Regions from separate parts of the Homo sapiens genome. Here region 2 is linked to region 1. Evidence: fine-mapped expression QTL. Tissue or cell type: whole blood. Region 1 holds a variant in brackets; the other region holds the start of a gene. All regions are shown on one strand. Distances are between the middles of the regions.

Evidence for each region. PIP is the estimated chance that this variant, and not a neighbour inherited with it, causes the effect.
Region 2: it holds the start of HEXIM1, and the variant in region 1 is fine-mapped to the expression of HEXIM1 in whole blood (INTERVAL, PIP above 0.99).

The regions. Positions count from the first base shown.
Region 1 is chr17:45,123,673-45,131,856 of GRCh38, reverse strand. The region is part of intron 1 of PLCD3 (phospholipase C delta 3); the gene reads left to right. It also overlaps a transcript of ACBD4 not described here. Among named protein-coding and RNA genes, the nearest start is that of PLCD3, 4.8 kb to the left of the region's middle. The variant T/A (reference allele first, on the strand shown) is at 4,633.
Region 2 is chr17:45,144,045-45,152,215 of GRCh38, reverse strand. HEXIM1 (HEXIM P-TEFb complex subunit 1) reads right to left here and starts at 3,741. Exons shown (of 1, transcript NM_006460.3): 1 at 117-3,741. The coding sequence starts at 3,025. The coding sequence ends at 1,946. HEXIM2-AS1 (HEXIM2 antisense RNA 1) reads left to right here. Exons shown (of 3, transcript NR_186789.1): 3 at 1,297-2,554. ACBD4 (acyl-CoA binding domain containing 4) reads right to left here. Exons shown (of 10, transcript NM_001135705.3): 10 at 8,040-8,171. RefSeq lists enhancers at 2,353-2,412, 2,083-2,638, 3,043-3,152, 3,203-3,252, 3,303-3,352 and 3 more and a silencer at 7,654-7,893.

The DNA of each region.
Region 1 (8,184 bases):
GCGAGTTTGCGGTCGGCCTCCGCAGAAGAGGCTGGCCTCCACAGCAGCCCTCCAAGCCGCGGCCCCACAGAGGCGGCCACAGCCACACTGCTCTGGCAGGACTGGTCTAACAGCCTACGTCCGACAGCCAAGGCTCTCACCTCAGATTTGGGGAAGTCAGTCGTGGAGAAGGAATGTAACTGTGGCTCATTGGAACATCACAGAGGCAGCTGGCACTGGGTGGGTTACACAGGTGGTGTCTTGCAATCTTCCTCGACTTCCTAGGTGGGAGGTGAATCCTCATTTCACAAGTGAGGAAACTGACTCAGAGACGGCAAGGAATTTGCCTATGACCACACAGCCAACAAAGGGCAAAGTGTGACTGGCACCCCGGTGGTGCCCCACCACATGGGCCCTGGTACCCTCTCAGAGTCTGGGAAAAGTGGGACCCGCAGGGCAGTGGAGGGCTTGAATGAGAGGGTGTGTGCGAGAATGTTGTCTGACGTGGAAAGGACCGCGCCACTGAAGTGCTGCGTTGGACCTGCCATTGGTAGAATAGTCAGTGATGGAGAGGCTAGGTGTGGAACTCCGGAACAGAAGGACAAGGCTGCCAGGGACCCCGTGTAGAACTTGGGGCAGAATTCAGGGGTCCTGATTGCCAGTTTTGCCTTCTTGTTACCTCGACTCATTCCACCTGAGCGCTGACTATGTCTGGGCGCTGTGCCTGGCACTCTGGTTACTGAGACATAGGACACCATCTCTACCCTGCCATCCATTCAACTGTGCATGCATTGGACAAGCACTTATGCGGTGCCCATGGTATGGTACTATGGTACAAGCACTTGTGGAGTGCCTATGGTATGCTCCACCCTGGGGCTCTTGCATTAGAGAGCTGAGGTTCCAGCAGGGAGATCAGACAGTGAAACAAAGGAACAGGACCTTGGGGGTGGGGGAACAGGGGGCAGCACATGAGGGGCTGGGGAGCCAGCAGGCCCTGGCTGGCCCCAGCTGAGGAAGACGGGAGTGGCAAAGGGGAGAGGCTGGGGGTGGGAGGAGCTCCTCCAGGCCCTCCCTGGAGAGTCATGGACTTTATCTGGAGGGCATCAGGAGCCCCAGAAAGGGCTTGGGCAGGAGTGAGTGTGGAGAGTGGGGGGCAGGTTGGATGAAGGCAGGGGCGAAACAGGGAGACCCAAGGAGGGAGGCTGAGGAGTTAGTTGGGCAAGGGGTGGGGACCAGACTTGGGGGACACCCAGGATGGACCCCAGAACTCCCAGGAGATAGACTGGGCTGGACTCTGTGATCGACAGGTGTCATTCTCTGGGCTAAGAAATGGTGTGGTTTGGGGATGGCTGAGGGCAGCCCTGGGAGTCAGCCCTGGCAGGGTCACGGGTGCCGCGGAAGGGCTGAGGGGAGGCCCCATGCCCATTGGCCTCTTCATCCCACACGTTTGCTGAGCGCCATTAGTGGGCCAGGGTGCTGTGCCAGGGGCTGGGGCTACAGAGATGAGTAGCACAGAGCTTTGCCCTCAGGGAGTGCACAGTTTAGTGGGCAGAGTCACATGCAGACAAATAATTACAGCTGAGCCCGGGCCTCGGTACTCATCAGCTGAGTAAGGCTGCACGGGAGCTCTGGGCACCTCATCAAGGTGACACTCTCGGGAACTACATAGATATCAGAATGTCATCTAGGTCACCCTCATTCCTCACCACTGCCCTGTCCTGCTGAGTGACTGCAGAGAGAGGAATGTTGAGTCCGAGTCTGTTGGGAATGTCCCTTCCCCAGGCCATAGGGAGTCCAGGGACAGGGTGGAGAAGGAAACCCAGTCTTGGGGCCCAGCCCCTTGGGCCATCAGAGGCCAAGGCCTAGGCCTGTCACCCAGGTAGCCTCCCCCGCCTCGCTCTGCCCCTGCCATCACCACACCCCTTAGCCTAACAGAGAATAGATTTTATATCAAATCAGGTCAAGGGACTAGGGCAGGGAGTGGCTTAGAGGGGCCTGAGGAAGGAAAATCCTTTAGGGCCACACTAGGGAGACCCAGATGAGCGGGGAAGGAGGAAGAAAACACCCCCACAGTGAGTGGGAGTCCTTTGTCCCCCCTCCAGTCCCCCGCTCCTGGGCTGGGCTGCGGACTTGCAGGGAATCATTGAAGAGAGAGGAGCGCTAGAGCCCAGTGAGCACCCGCCATGCGTGAGGCACTGTGCTGAGCTTGCATCAGACCTGATCCTGCTTAATCCTCAGGCATCCCTGTGCGGGAGGTGCTGTCCTCATGTCACATTACAGACGGGAAGCTCAAGGCGGAGGGGTGAAATCACCGCCCAAGGCCACATGCCTGCCTGCTGCCAGAGCCTAGTTTTCCATGATGGCTCCCAGTGAATACTTTTTGTTGTTGCTGTTGTTGTTAGTTGTTTATGAGACAGGGTCTCATTCTGTCACCCAGGCTGGAGTGCAGTGGCATGATCATGGCTCACTGCAACCTCAAATTCCTGACCTCAAGTGATCCTCCCACCTCAGTCTCCCAAGTAGCTGGGACTCAGGAGACTGGGAGACTGGGTACCACCACATCCAGCTAATTTTGTTTCTGTTTTTTGTAGAGTTGGGGTCTCACTGTGTTGTCCAGGCTGGTCTTGAACTCCTGGGCTAAAAGAATCCTCCTGCCTTGGATTCCCAAAGTGCTGGGATTACAGGTGTAAGCCACCATTCTTGGCTAGCCTGATGAATACTAATGAACAATTTTGTCACTGTCCCAGGCGCTTTTCGCATATTATCTCATGTAATGCTCACACTAATATGAGGTAGGTGGTACCAGTAGCCTTCTCTTACAGATGAGGAAACTAAGACTCAGAGAGATTTGGTAACTTGCCTAGGGTTCAAAGCTGGGAAGTAGCTGAGAGAAAATTTGAACCCAGGCAGTGTGGCCCAGAGTCCGTGCTTGTCACACAGTGACTGATAGAGAAGCTGATACCTGCAGGGGGCCTCCTGGCCGCTCCTCTCCCATGGGGGCCCTGCCAGCCCCCAGGAGCGTCCTCACAGGGCTGCCAAATAAAATACAGAACACCCGGTTAAGTTTGGAATTCCGCTAAATGCGGAATATGGAATGTATTTATACTAAAAAATTATTCTTTATCTGAATTTCACATTTAACGGGTGTCCTGGATTTTCTCTGGCCACCCTGTGTCCCCACAGCCCCGTGTGTGCCTGTGCCCTGATGCTCCGCCCCTGCCCCTCATCCTCCCCATGGGCAGAGGCCTGAGTGGGCAGAATCCTGCCCCCTTGCCTCCCCAGCCTACACACACTACCAAGTGCCCCTGAGCGAGAGGGCTCGGCCCATGGCCTGCCTGGGATGTCTTCCGCAGGGTGAGTGGGACTGCTGTGGGTGACTTGGCAGGTGAGGGTCTTCAGAACAACCCCCAGCCCTGGCAGGTGCCTGGCCTGGGTGGTGGGTAAGCTGGGTGGCCCTCCAGTCTAAGCAGGGGCATGCCAGGTGGGACTAGGGGGCTGGCTCTGCCAGGCCCTGTGGTCCCCCTCACATCTTTCCCTGTCCCCTACCCTGACTTCCGCACCCAACCAGGTTTCATGCCTGTTCTGGCCCCAGAGAAAAGGGTGCTGCCACCCCCACTTGCTGTGTCCCACCCGGGGCCAAGGGAAGCACCGCCTGCCTTTCCTGACTTTGTTGATTCTCCAAGGAATGTTATGGACTCTGGCACCGAGCCCCCGCCAGGCTCCAGCCCTGGGTGTGGCAGCCAGCTGGGTCACGGGGGACATGCTTGGTGCCTGAGGTGTGGAGGCTGCCTGCTGGCTAAAGGATTAGGGTGGGAGGGTCTTTGGGACCCCTCGCCATTGTGTGTCCTCTCCTAGAGCCTCACAGCCCCGGCCACCTGGAAACGCTCTTTCTCTACTCCCTGCTCGGCCTTGGCCACAGCTGCTGGCTGTAGCAGTTCCCTGCATGACTCGCATTCCTGTGGAGCCCTGTGTGCACCTCCCGAGTGCGAGCCGCCTATTTCCCCCTGGCTGGCCCACCTTCCACCCTCTCCACCCATGAACCCTGTACGCACACACACACTCACACGCACACACTCACACACATTCACTCACACTCATACACACACACTGTCTCACGCACACACACACTCCCCACCTATGCATACACCCCACACACACCCTGCCCTGCCTGCATGCCACCCCTCCGGGACACGCCTGGACAGAACTCCCACCCTCCCTGCCAGCTGCCCTGGCGCCTGTCTCCACTGCACAGCCTCTATATCCATCCCTGCCTGGGGGCGACCTGCACTATCTTCAGCACACAGGGCTTGTCCTCTCTGAGCTCAGTGGTGCACCTGTGAAAAGGGTGGGATTTGGGGCCCCTTCCAGCTCTGACATGAGGTAGTTTCTGGTCCCTGGTCTTGGCTACCCTTACAGAACTGCTCAGGCCCCAGACCATCCACGCCCCAAACCGCCCGGGCTGCAGGTGGAAGTTGAGAAACTGGGCCTGCCCTTTCCTCAGCACGCCTGACCCCTCTCTGAGGCTGAGATAAGCGGGCAGCTTGGGAAGGTGTCTGAGCCCCAGCTGACAACACTGAATTGGGCGGGAGGTGCCGCTGTCCTGGTCTGGGGAAGGTACCCCCTGGAGGCCATGGGACTAAGGGGACAGATGGA[T/A]CAGAACACGTGGGTGCCTCTTTCCACCCGGGGCACTAACTCACTTCCCCAGAGCCCTGCCTCAGTTTCCTTCTTTGTGATCATTTACTGAGCACCCACTATGGGCCAGGCCTAAACCAGGCTCCATGTGCTTGTGCCTGTTGTGGCCACACACAGCCCTTTGGGGTCAGACTCCCCCAACTTCCACCACATTTCAGCCCCACCGGGTGCCGACCTGGCTGTCTGCTTCTTTAACAGCATTTTTGAGATATTCATTCACATACCTTATAATTTATCCATTGAAAGTACACAGTGCGGAGCACTTTGGGAGGCAGAGGCTGTTGAATCACTTGAGGCCAGGAGTTTGAGACCAGCCTGGGCATCATAGTGTGACCCCAACTCTACAAAAAAATTTAAAAATTATTCAGGCCTGGTAGTGCAAGTCTGTAGTCCCAGCTCCTCGGGAGGCTGAGGTAGGTGGATTGTTTGAGCCCAAGAGTTTGAGGCTGCTGCAGTGAGCCATTATTGTGCCACTGCACCCCAGCCTGGCTACAGAGCAAGACCCTGTCTCAGAAAAAAAAAAAAAGTATACAATGGTTTCCAGCATATTATATCATTAAACTTTAAAAATTATGGTAAAATAGGCCGGGTGCTGTGGCTCACGCCTGTAATCCTAGCACTTTGGGAGGCCGAGGCGAGTGGATCACTTGAAGTCAGGAGTTCGAGACCAGCCTGGCCAACATGGTGAAACCCCATCTCTACTAAAAATACAACAATTAGCCGGAAATCACTTGAACCCGGGAGGTGGGGGTTGCAGTGAGCTGAGATCGTGCCACTGCACTCCAGCCTGGGCAACAGAACGAGATGCTGTCTCAAAAAAAAAAAAAAAAAAAAAAAATAGGCTGGGCGCAGTGGCTCATGCCTGTAATCCCAGCACTTTGGGAGGCTGAGGTGGGCGGATCATGAGGTCAGGATATCAAGACCATCCTGGCTAACACGGTGAAACCCCGTCTCTACTAAAAAATACAAAAAAAATTAGCCAGGTGTGGTGGCGGGCACCTGCAGTCCTAGCTACTCAGGAGGCTGAGGCAGGAGAATGGCGTGAACCCAGGAGGCGGAGCTTGCAGTGAGCCAAGTTCGTGCTACTGCACTCCAGCCTGGGCAACAGAGCGAGACTCCATCTCAAAAAAAAAAAAAAAATATGGTAAAATATATATAATGAAATTGGCCATTGCAACCATTTTTAAGTGGTTAATTCACTGGCATTAATTACATTCACGCTGTTGTGCAACTATTACTGTTGCCTATTTCCAAAACTTTTTCATCATCCAAACAGAAACTAACCATCAAGCAATAACTCTCCATTACCTCCCCATTCCAGCCCCTGGTACCCTCCCAGCTACTTTCTGTCTCTATGAACTTGCCGCTCTGGGTACCTCACATGGGTGGAATCACATAGTATTTGTCGTTTGGGGTCTGGCTTCTTTCACTTAGCATGATGTTTTCAAGGTTCATCCATGTTGTAGCGTGCATCAGATTTCACTCCTTTACATGGCTGAATACTATTCCATTGTATCGATAAACCATATTTTGCTTATGCACTCATCTGTCTCATATGTTTTTTGTTTGTTTTGTTTTGTTTTGTTTTTTGAGACGGAGTCTCGCCATGTCTCCCAGGCTGGAGTATAGTGGCACAATCTCAGCTCGCTGCAACCTCTGCCTTCCGGGTTCAAGCATTCTCCTGCCTTAGCCTCCCTAGTAGCTGAGATTACAGGCGTGGGCCACCATGCTCGGCTGTTTTCTATTTTTAGTAGAGACGGGGTTTCACCATGTTGGTCAGGCTGGTCTCGAACTCCTGACCTCAAATGATCTGCCTGCCTCGGCCTCCCAAAGTGCTGGGATTACAGGTGTGAGCCACCATGCCCAGCTAATGTTTTATGTTTTTAGTAGAGACAGGGTTTCACCATGTTGGTTAGGCTGGTCTCGAACTCCTTGCCTCAAATGATCCACATGCCTCAGCCTCCCAAAGTGCTGGGATTGCAGGTGTGAGCCACCATGCCCGGCTGATGTTTTATATTTTAAACAGAAACAGGGTTTCACCATGTTGGTCAGGCTGGTCTTGAACTCCTGACCTCAAATGATCTGCCTGCTTCGGCCTTCCAAAGTACTGGGATTACAGGTGTGAGCCACCATGCCCAGCTAATGTTTTTTATTTTTTGTAGAGACAGGGTTTCACCATATTGGTCAGGCTGGTCTTGAACTCCTGACCTCAAATGACCCGCCTGCCTTGGCCTCCCAAAGTGCTGGGATTACAGGCTCATCTGTTGATGAGCACTCGGGTTGTTTCCACCTTTTGGCTTTCGTTTGCCCTCATTTTCACTGCTATTATTTTGTGATTGTCTCCACCCACTCAGTCACTGGCCCGGCAGCTACAGGATCAAGGCAGAGATGGTTCAAGTAGATACAAACCCCACAGGAACAGTAGGAGGTGGGCGGCTTGTGCACCTGCTCAGAGCAGGTAGGAACAAGGTCAAGGCGACATCTGTGGGCTTGGGCCTGGCAGGACCTATAAATGTCTACTGGGTGGCTGGATGGAGAGCCACGGTCCTCGCAGCATCGCTGCCCTGGCCCTGAGCCCTCCCTCTGACCTTGCCTCCTTACCTCTGTTGGCCCTGCCCTTCCTGCTGGACACCCCAGTCCTCTCACTGCCCCAGGGTTCAGAAGCACGAGCAGTGGGGACACAGAAGCACCCAACCAGGGACTCAGCACCTGGCCCCGCCTGGGACTGCACCCTCCTTCTGTTTGGCTTTTCCACTGGGTGTGTGTTTGGGGGGCAGTGCCAGTTTGCGGGGCAGCCTGGAATGTCACCCCTTCCCCCAACAGGTTCCTGGGGAGCTGAGGGTAAGGGGCCAGAAGTAGGGGCCCCCTCCATTGGGAGCCTGCCCAAGTGGGGGCCCAGTCAGGCGTTCAGGCTGCCTGTGTTGATGGCCTGTTTGCAGAAGGCTCTGGACAGAGCAGGCCCCGGTGACTCACCCCCATTTCCGGCCTTAGTCACTCATCTCCCCCACACCCATGGGCTTGGCATCAGAGGGCTGGCCTAGGTAGGGGAGGCAGCCCCAGCTGCAGAGCCTGGTTGTCATGGCAATGAGCAGTCCCCCTTCCCATGGCCAAGGGGGTGTAGGAGGATGTGCCTAAGTGTAGTGGCGCTGCAGGCTCCCCTCTGCCCTCACCGTGTCATTGCTCAGGATGGGACCATTTAGAGGCTACCTGGACCTGGTTGGGGGGGGGGTCTGGTGAGCCCCTCGGCCTGGCACGTGCCGTGTACACCCAGCTCTTTGTCTGGAAAGAGGAGGGTTCCACTTTCCCCTTCCTGACCAGGGGGTACCGAGTGGGCATTCACTCAGAGGGCCACAGTCTAGACCCTGAGGGACCCTCTGGAGCTGTTAGGGCCACAGGCTGGCCCCAAGGGGTCATGGCCTCTTAAGGAGGTGGATTTCTCCTCTTGCCCCTGAGACCCTGATTTTCAGTCATGGTCAAAGTGGGTTTTAAAAATACAGATGCCCAGGCCCCATC
Region 2 (8,171 bases), 20 kb before region 1:
AGGCTTCAGCTCTGCACTGTAAAGCCAGAGGGCACTGTTGCTGCCTTTCCAAGCAGCTGTTTTTCTGGGGCTGCTGCATGACGTCATAGCAGAAGAAAAAAACACGAAGAAAACTATTTCAAAATAAATGTTTAATATAATTTTTAGACCAAAGAAAAACTCAATCATACATTGTCTCCAGTGGACCATATGTGCCAGAACAGGACCAACTCAGTCCAGCTTTGAAGGCCCTGATTCAGTCCTACTGGTATAATCTCCCTTGATTTATTGATTTGTGTATGCTTCTTATGCAATACAAGGTGCATTTTACTCTTGAAGTCCCTATCACCTCCACCATCGCCATTTAACTGCAAAAGCATGCTTCCTAATGGGAGGGTTTTCTTCCCCCTTCCCTGCAGAGGTTCTGAACCTTCAAGGAGTTTGACAATCTTATGAATCTCTTGAACCTTCTCCCCAGAAAAATGTACATACAAGTCTACAAATAATTTCATGGGGTTCATGGACCCCAAGGCCCACAATGGTTTCTAAGGCCCCAAATTAAGGAACCTCTGTGCTAGTGATTTGAGCAACGCAATTGCCCTCAGAAGACACTGACACAGGGCAGGTGAAGGACTGGGTTAACCAAAATGACAGGAGGCAATCTCATAATTTCTGTTTTTATTTTGGGGCAAAATTTAGTTCTCAGGGCCTCCCTACGTTTAAGAGCAGAACTACTCAAGAACCTAAGCAGCTATCAGCATAGTTTAAGCGATTTAGAATAGGGCTGTGCAAGGGGATGTACAGGGTTCCTCATTCAGCTGAGGACCTCATTTAGCTCCTTAACTGGAAGCTTTACATTTGATCTGCAGTGAGGGGACATTTCTAATTTTAGTTTGACCCACATGGAAAGGTGGATAGCTTTTTTTTTTTGTTTTGGTATAGAGAGCACGTAGAATTGGACAATTAGGTAAATCCTTGGAATCCCCCAAACAGCCATTTGCTTTATAAATCCAGTATTTCTTACCTCTGAACGTCTTAAAGAGCTGCCTCACAAATTAATCTAACCATTGCTTGCACTAAGAAGTTTGCCAAGAGCCTCTTCCAGCCTTACTGGGGGGAAGGAAGAGATTACTGAAAACCAACTTGTAGGAATGAAATGAGGCTGTCAGTTGTCTAACCTAACAAACTGCCAAATTAGGTTTACATTTTTTGTTATTAGACTTTTGAATGGCCGAGGCAGAGTTAAATTTAAAATTTTGGATTGTAGCCACTTTCCACTCGCCTAAACACTCAATACCGGTTTGTTTATTTTTCCAGCATCAAGAAAGAAAACCAAGGCACTAGAAAGCAAGCACACTTAAGTATTGAAGATAATTACATCTTAAATTTTGCCTGAACTGTATATTGTAGCATACTTAAACCCATTCAAGGAAAAAATTGGCAAATTGAAAATTCTCCCATTAAAGATTGATATTTTTGCAAACTGACAAATTTAACGATTTCGGTACCCCTCCCCAAAAATGCAGTCACATAAAATATATCAATACTATTTTGAATTAGCTCTAGAAATCACACTGAAACTATGTTACATTTACAAATATTAAATTTATTATAACTAAAATGAATTTAATTGTTCTCAGATTTGGCCACCTTATAGCTCCGTTTAAGGAGGGGATTTGTTAAAAACAAAAATGCATTATAACTTGGTCAAATTACTTTCACATTAAGGAAAAAAACTTCTAAAAAGGAAAACAAGAAAAGCAACTCTTCAGTTTCACATAATTAAAAGAACAGGAGAAAGCACGCAAGCTACATATAGCTAAATTTACGAAACCAAAGCCAGGGGGATTTCTCTTCTGATTATGTGTCATAAAAAGGTCCACTGTCTTATATACACATGTATATAATGTTACATTCCATCACTGTAAAAAGTCCCCTTTGCCCCCTCCCCCAAAAAAGTTTCAGTCTAGTCTCCAAACTTGGAAAGCGGCGCTCGCTCCTGCTGCCGGTGCAGTTCGTTCTCGGTCAGCAGCTGGAGGTTCTCGGCGCGCAGCCGGTCCAGCTCCAGCTCCAGCTCCCGCACACGCGCGTCGTCGCCACCCAGCCGCTTGCTCTCCAGCCGCAGCCGGTTGTTCTCGTCCTCCATGCGCGAGAGGCACTTCTCCAGTTCCAGGTACTCCTTGATGAGCTCCTGCTTGCTCATGTTCTGCAGGCTCTCCGTGTGGTACCGCTCGTACGTCTCCGAGAAGTCCCGCTGCAGAAACTCGCTGCCGTCCCCTCCCATCCCATCGCTGCCCCCATCCTCCTCACCCCCTTCTTCCATGAAGTCGTCATCGCTGGTGTCGTCGGATTTGGCGGCGGCCCGCTTGGAGTACAGGCCGGTTTTGAGATCCGGCTCCTCCTGGTCGTGATCATCCATGAGGAACTGCGTGGTGTTATAGGGCGCGACCGGCTGGCCCTTGGCGAACATCTCGGCTCGGATCCTTGAAGCTCGAAGGCTCTGTTTCTCGTCGAACTTTTTCTTCTCTTCCCAGGTCAGCTTGTAGTACGGTTTCCAATGCCGCTTCTTCTTGGACGGGCGTCTCCTATGTTTTTTCTTCCCCAGCTGTCTCTGCTGCTGTCCCCACTCCTCTTCGCCCCCTGCGGCAGGAGCCCCCAACTTACTGGCCTCGGAGTCATGACAAGGCTGGGCGAGCAGCTCGGCCTCGGGCGTCGGTTCCACTTCTGCCGGCGGCGGGAAGTCGCCGCCAGCGGACGAGTCGTCCCCATTCTGGCCCTTCTCGCCCTCTCTCAGGCAGCTAGATTCTGGACAGGCCTGGGTCTGCAAGGGAGGTGGTTGGGATTCCAGGCTCCCTTCCCCCTCCGGCCCCGGACGGCCACCCAACTGGGGGAACGCTCTCGATTGCCACCTACTGTCCTCCTCGGGCACCCGCTCCTCCGCGCCTGGGGGGCGCTCAGGGTTCAGCTCTTCCTGGACAGCAGCAGCACCTGTACAGTTGCTAGTTTGAGGCTGGTGTTGATATTCTGACAAGAATGGCTCGGCCATGGCTAGTAGAGTCCTCGAAGTTTAAGAAATTTTGGCTAGTAAGTCCTTAAGGAAAAAAATGGGTTTTTCTTAAAAAAAAGAAAAAGAAAAAAAAAACAGTCCAACAGAGTCCTCTTCAGTTTGTAATTCCTGCAGTGACGCCTTTAGCTAGTCCTTCTATCAGCAAACTCCAACTGCAATCTGGGGAGCTCAAGTCAGTAAAGGGTTAAGCGCCCACAGTGCGGCCAGCTAGCGGGTCCAAGGGGGTGCAGCGGCAGGAACAGTACGTAATGGGCGGAGGTGGGCCTCAAACCTCCAAGCGGAGCACCCCAATAAAGGAGTTGGTGAGCAAGGTGATGAGGGTAAGTCCAGTGCGTGAAACCCAGCCCCGAAGGGGTTAAAACTACCGATGACGCTGCCTCCGAGGGGCCAGATCCACAAAGGGTTAAATCCCCTGCCGCAGAGCCCACAAGGGGTTAAAGTCCCGGCGCCACCTCCTCCCACTTCCACGGGTGTCGCTTCCACCCAAGCTCCCAGTTCCCTAGGCCCGGCCGTAGCCTCAGCAGAGGACAGACAAACTCATCTCCCCTTTGGCTCGATGCTCTGCTCTGCTCAGTTCTCCTCCGCCTCCTCCTCTTTTCCTCCCTCCCTCCTCCCCCTTCCCACAGCTCCTCTTCCGCGTCCTCCCCCGACTTTCCCTCCCAACCTGCCTCTCCACCTGCCAACTTCCAACTGCTGTCTCCCAGTCCTCTGCGCCCCTTTTATATAGAAGCTTTTTCGCCCCGCCCGTGCGCATGCGTAACGGAGTTCCCTTTGCGGGGCGCCGGGAGTCGTAGTTCTTATCTTTCGGGCCCGCCGCCCTCGCGCGCCGTGCGACGTAGCCAATCCCAGGACGCGTAGGGGGCGTCTCCCTGGCCGCCACCTTCCATCGCTTAGACCTCGCTAAAGAAACGCGAGCGGCCATTGGTGAAAAATCACACGACTCGCTGAGGAAGGACGGCCAATCGCAGAGAAGATGGGGCGGGTTCTGGACCGTACCATTCTGTTTCAGGAATACGAGAAGATTCGATGGCCTATGAGAGTCCTCACAGAATATTTTTATGAAAAGGTGCGTTATAAAGGCTATTATCGTATTTTGTTCTCAGCGGAGGGGTTCCGAAGGTTATGAACCTTTATTAACTAACGCAAGAATGGTTTATTCCTAAAAAGTAGTCCCTAAAATGTAAAAGAATTAAATCCTATAAAGAGAGACGTCGGCCCACGGCTGCTAACTCGCGAGTCTTAAGATTATAGAAATGGCTTCAAGGCGGGTGGTGAGTGCCTGAGACTGACACTTGCGGAAGGATATCGCGAGCACATTTTGTAAAGACCGAAGAGCGCATGAAGAAGTAAACAAATGAAGAATAAAAAGTGCCGCCTTAAAGGGACAGTGTGACTGCGTTTAGCGCCGCAGGCTCGCACTAGGCCTCGGAAGACGAAGAGGCGGGTTCGAGTCCCGGTGACGCGACTCCCGGACTGACCTCGGTACCCTTAGCTGAAGGTGGCGGAGTCCCAGCCCCAGCCTGGTCTCAGAAAGCCGCCCCCGCCCCAGGGGCAAATGCAAACTGGTGATTCGCGACCAAGGCTCTTCCCTGGGCCGAGATCGGAAAGCCGGGGCCGGGGGCGGGCGGGGGAGTGGAGGGGGAAGCGGGGGAAGGCCACGCCCCCACGCCTCAGCTTCTGTCGAAGAAAATGGCCTCCTGGGGCCGATTTGGTCTTTTCACTTCCGACCGAGATCATTTCCTGAGCCGGGACAGAGGAGGTCCGGGACAGCCATGAGGCTGTTTGTTGGGAAGAGTTCGGAATGATTAATGAGTTGAAATCATCAGCCCTGGCTATCCGAGAGGGAAGCAGGTCTCACCCGCAGAGGCCCTTCCTCATCAGTGGGCGCTGGGCAAGACTGGGAGGGAAGCATGGAGGAGGCCTTGCTCCGAAACTTGCTGCAGGGGATTCTGGCGCAGGGCTGGGGGGGCCGATTCCCCCGGGGGCGTAGTTTCTCAGAGAGAAATTCTCTAGACCCAAGCCCCCAGCCCTCCATAAACAGGGACTGAGAGGACCCAGAGAACCCTCCATACCAGTCACTGAGGCCTAAAATCTTGGCGCCCTTTCCACTTCTCCTTCGCCACACACCCAGTGACCCTTTCTTCTTATTGCTTCCTTAATAGCATCCCTGACATTCCAGCACGTTTGCACTGTGTACCTTTTACGCACAGAGCCATGTGACCTCACCACAGCCTGGCAAGTTAGACACGATAGGAATGAGTGTCTCCATTTTACAGATAAGGCATCTCTAAGACACTGGAAAATAAGTGACTTGTCCAAGGTCACATGACAACCATGGGGCAGTTCTGGCTAGAGCGCTGGTCTTTGTGACCCCCCCCGTGCCATTTTTCTTTCTGTCACAAACACAAAACCCATTTTTTCTTAAAATCGGGGAATACTCTGGATTTCGTTCTTTTTATTCCCAACAACTTCAACCTTATTCAGCCCCTATATCACTTGGCAAACAGGAGGGTACAAAGAGGGGTGGGATGCCATTCTTGCCTTCAAGTTGCTCCTGGACTGTGGAGAGGCCATCAGACCACAGCCAGCCTAAATGGCAAGTGAGGGAAATCCTGGTGGGAGCTGATGAGCCGAGTGCATGGGAGCTGGGAATTATGGACAAGTGTCAGGAGCAAGTGACTTCCTGGCTGGCTCTGAAGGATGAAGAGCTTTCAGGCAAAGTGGCACGAAGAGGGGCATTTTAGGAAGCCCAAGCATCATGTGCCAGGAAAGGGCTAGTCTGGGACTTCGGTGGCTCTGGGCAGTGTGAGATATCGGGGGTGGGGGCCAGTGGTGATGGGCATGGCCAATGTAGATGCCTCTAAGGGGAGCCGCAAGCACGCGGGCCTCTGGGCACAGCTATATGTTCTGAAAATGAACACCTTCATTTGTTTTCTCTGGGCTTCCAAGAATTCGGGTCCACCTGAAAAGTTCGCCACTCCGTGTGGCTTCATCCCTTAGGAGGCTTCCTGAGAGCAAGAACTGCCCCTCAGAGCACTCCTGGAGGAAAAAGGGATTTTGCAGATAACTTGGTTATCACAGAGAGTTATCACAGAGACCTCCAAATTGTTACCCCATCTTCAGACTCCAGAGGATTCTGGGGTACCCCCAGTCAGGGCATTTGGAAGGCACTGCTGAGCCTAGCCTCAGTGTCCTGGACTGGGCTCCACTGTATGGTCTCGTGTTCTATTGGGGGAGAGGTGGACTGACGAATAGGTTGTGGAATTCTAGAATTCTGTCAAGGGGCCAGGCAACCTTACTGTTAGCTGGGTTCTAACCCTTTGCCAGGCATTTAACATGCCCCATCACTGGTAAACCCCAGGACTGCCTTATGAAAAAGAGATCAACTCTATTTCACAAAAGAGGCCACCCAAGGCCAGAGCAGTTAAGAATCTTCCCCAAGGGGGCCGGGCGCGGTGGCTCACGCCTGTAATCCTAGCACTTTGGGAGGCCGAGGTGGGCGGATCACGAGGTCAGGAGATCGAGACCATCCTGGCTAACATGGTGAAACCCCATCTCTACTAAAAATACAAAAAATTAGCCGGGCGTGGTGGCCCCCGCCTGTAGTCCCAGCTACTTCCGGGAGGCTGAGGCAGGAGAATCGCTTGAATCTGGGAGGCGGAGGTTGCAATGAGCCGAGATCGCGCCACTGCACTCCAGCCTGACAACAAAGCGAGACTCGGTCTCAAAAAAAAAAAAAAAAAAAAAATATCTTACCCAAGTTCCACAGCTACTGTGCAAGTGGTGGAGCTGGCTTCAGCTCCAGGCCTGCATCCCCCACCAAGGTGGCCCTGCTGTTGTCTGTCCTGCTTGCTGCAGTCCAGCCTTATCACAGGGGCTATTCAGCCTGTGCTTGTGACCCTGGGCTGAGCCGTGCAGGTGCAGAGCGCACCGTCTAGCCTCAGGGATGCCTTCCCGGCTTTGAGAGGACTGACGACTAAAGAGTGACTGTGGCTTCCAGTGGGGCCAATGATGGCGAAGCCTGGGACGGTGGTCGAGACTAGAGGCTGACAGGGAACTCAGGAGTTTAAGGATCTCAGCCAGGGGCCTTCAGAACTGCCTCTTCCTTACCCAGGGGTAGGAAGGTCCTAGGGCCCAGGTGGTGGCAGCGGCGGGGGACTGCGGTAGAGACCCTGGCCAGTGGACTTGGAGGCGCTGGCACCAGGCGGCCCTCAGAGCGGCCAGTTTCGCCACTGAATACAGGCCGGACCGAGGCTTGAGCCAAGACGGCCCACGGACGACAGGGCTTGTGCTGGACAGAGGGAGGCCAAGGCTTCTGGCCCGTACCCCCCGACGGCGACTGCACGCGGGCGCTCGGCCCACCCCGACAGGGGCTTCCAGGCGCGCAGGGCCCTGCTCCCTACTCAGGGCGGGGCGAGGACGAGGCTCTCGCTGGGCCTTGGCCTCCCAGAAAATCCCCTGGGAAGGCCCAGGCCCGGAGGTCAAGGTGGGGCACCGGGAACTGAGGCAGCTGAGGAGGGGGCAGCGGACATTTCTGGGGCCGGGGGCTCGGAACCCCATCTCTACGCCCGGGGCGCGGAGCTGGAGCAGCCGCGGTCCGCTTTGGGCGGGGGCCAAACCAGCTCCTCGGCCCCGCCCAGCCGTGCTCCGCTCCTCCCCGCCACCCCCAGCTCGCTCGGACCCCGCGTCCCCGACGGGGCGGCGGGCTGGGCCGCGCCCTCGGCCCCCCGCATTGGCCCCGCCTTCCCAAGGGCGCCCCGCTCCCAGCCCGGGCCACCCTTGGTTCCCCTCCCTCTCCCCTCCACACAGAGGCCTGTTTTCCCTTCGCTTGCCCGGGGAGGAGGGAAAATATTCCCCATTCAGAAACACCAACCGCTGGCTTCTTTCAGGGCCATCAGGGGGGCATTGGGTGGGGAGCAGGAAAGGGACTTGTGCCTCGCTCGCGCCGGGCCCCGCTCCCCGCTCCCTCCGTAGGGGACCAGACAGCAGAAGATTCTGGTTTTCTTTTATTTAGTGAAACATTCCTTTGTAAGTGAATCTTCAATGAAGACGTCCCGAGTGTGTGTGGGGGCGGAGGGGGCCGGCAGGGGAGGAAAGCGAGCAAACTGCGCTCATCCCCCTCCCC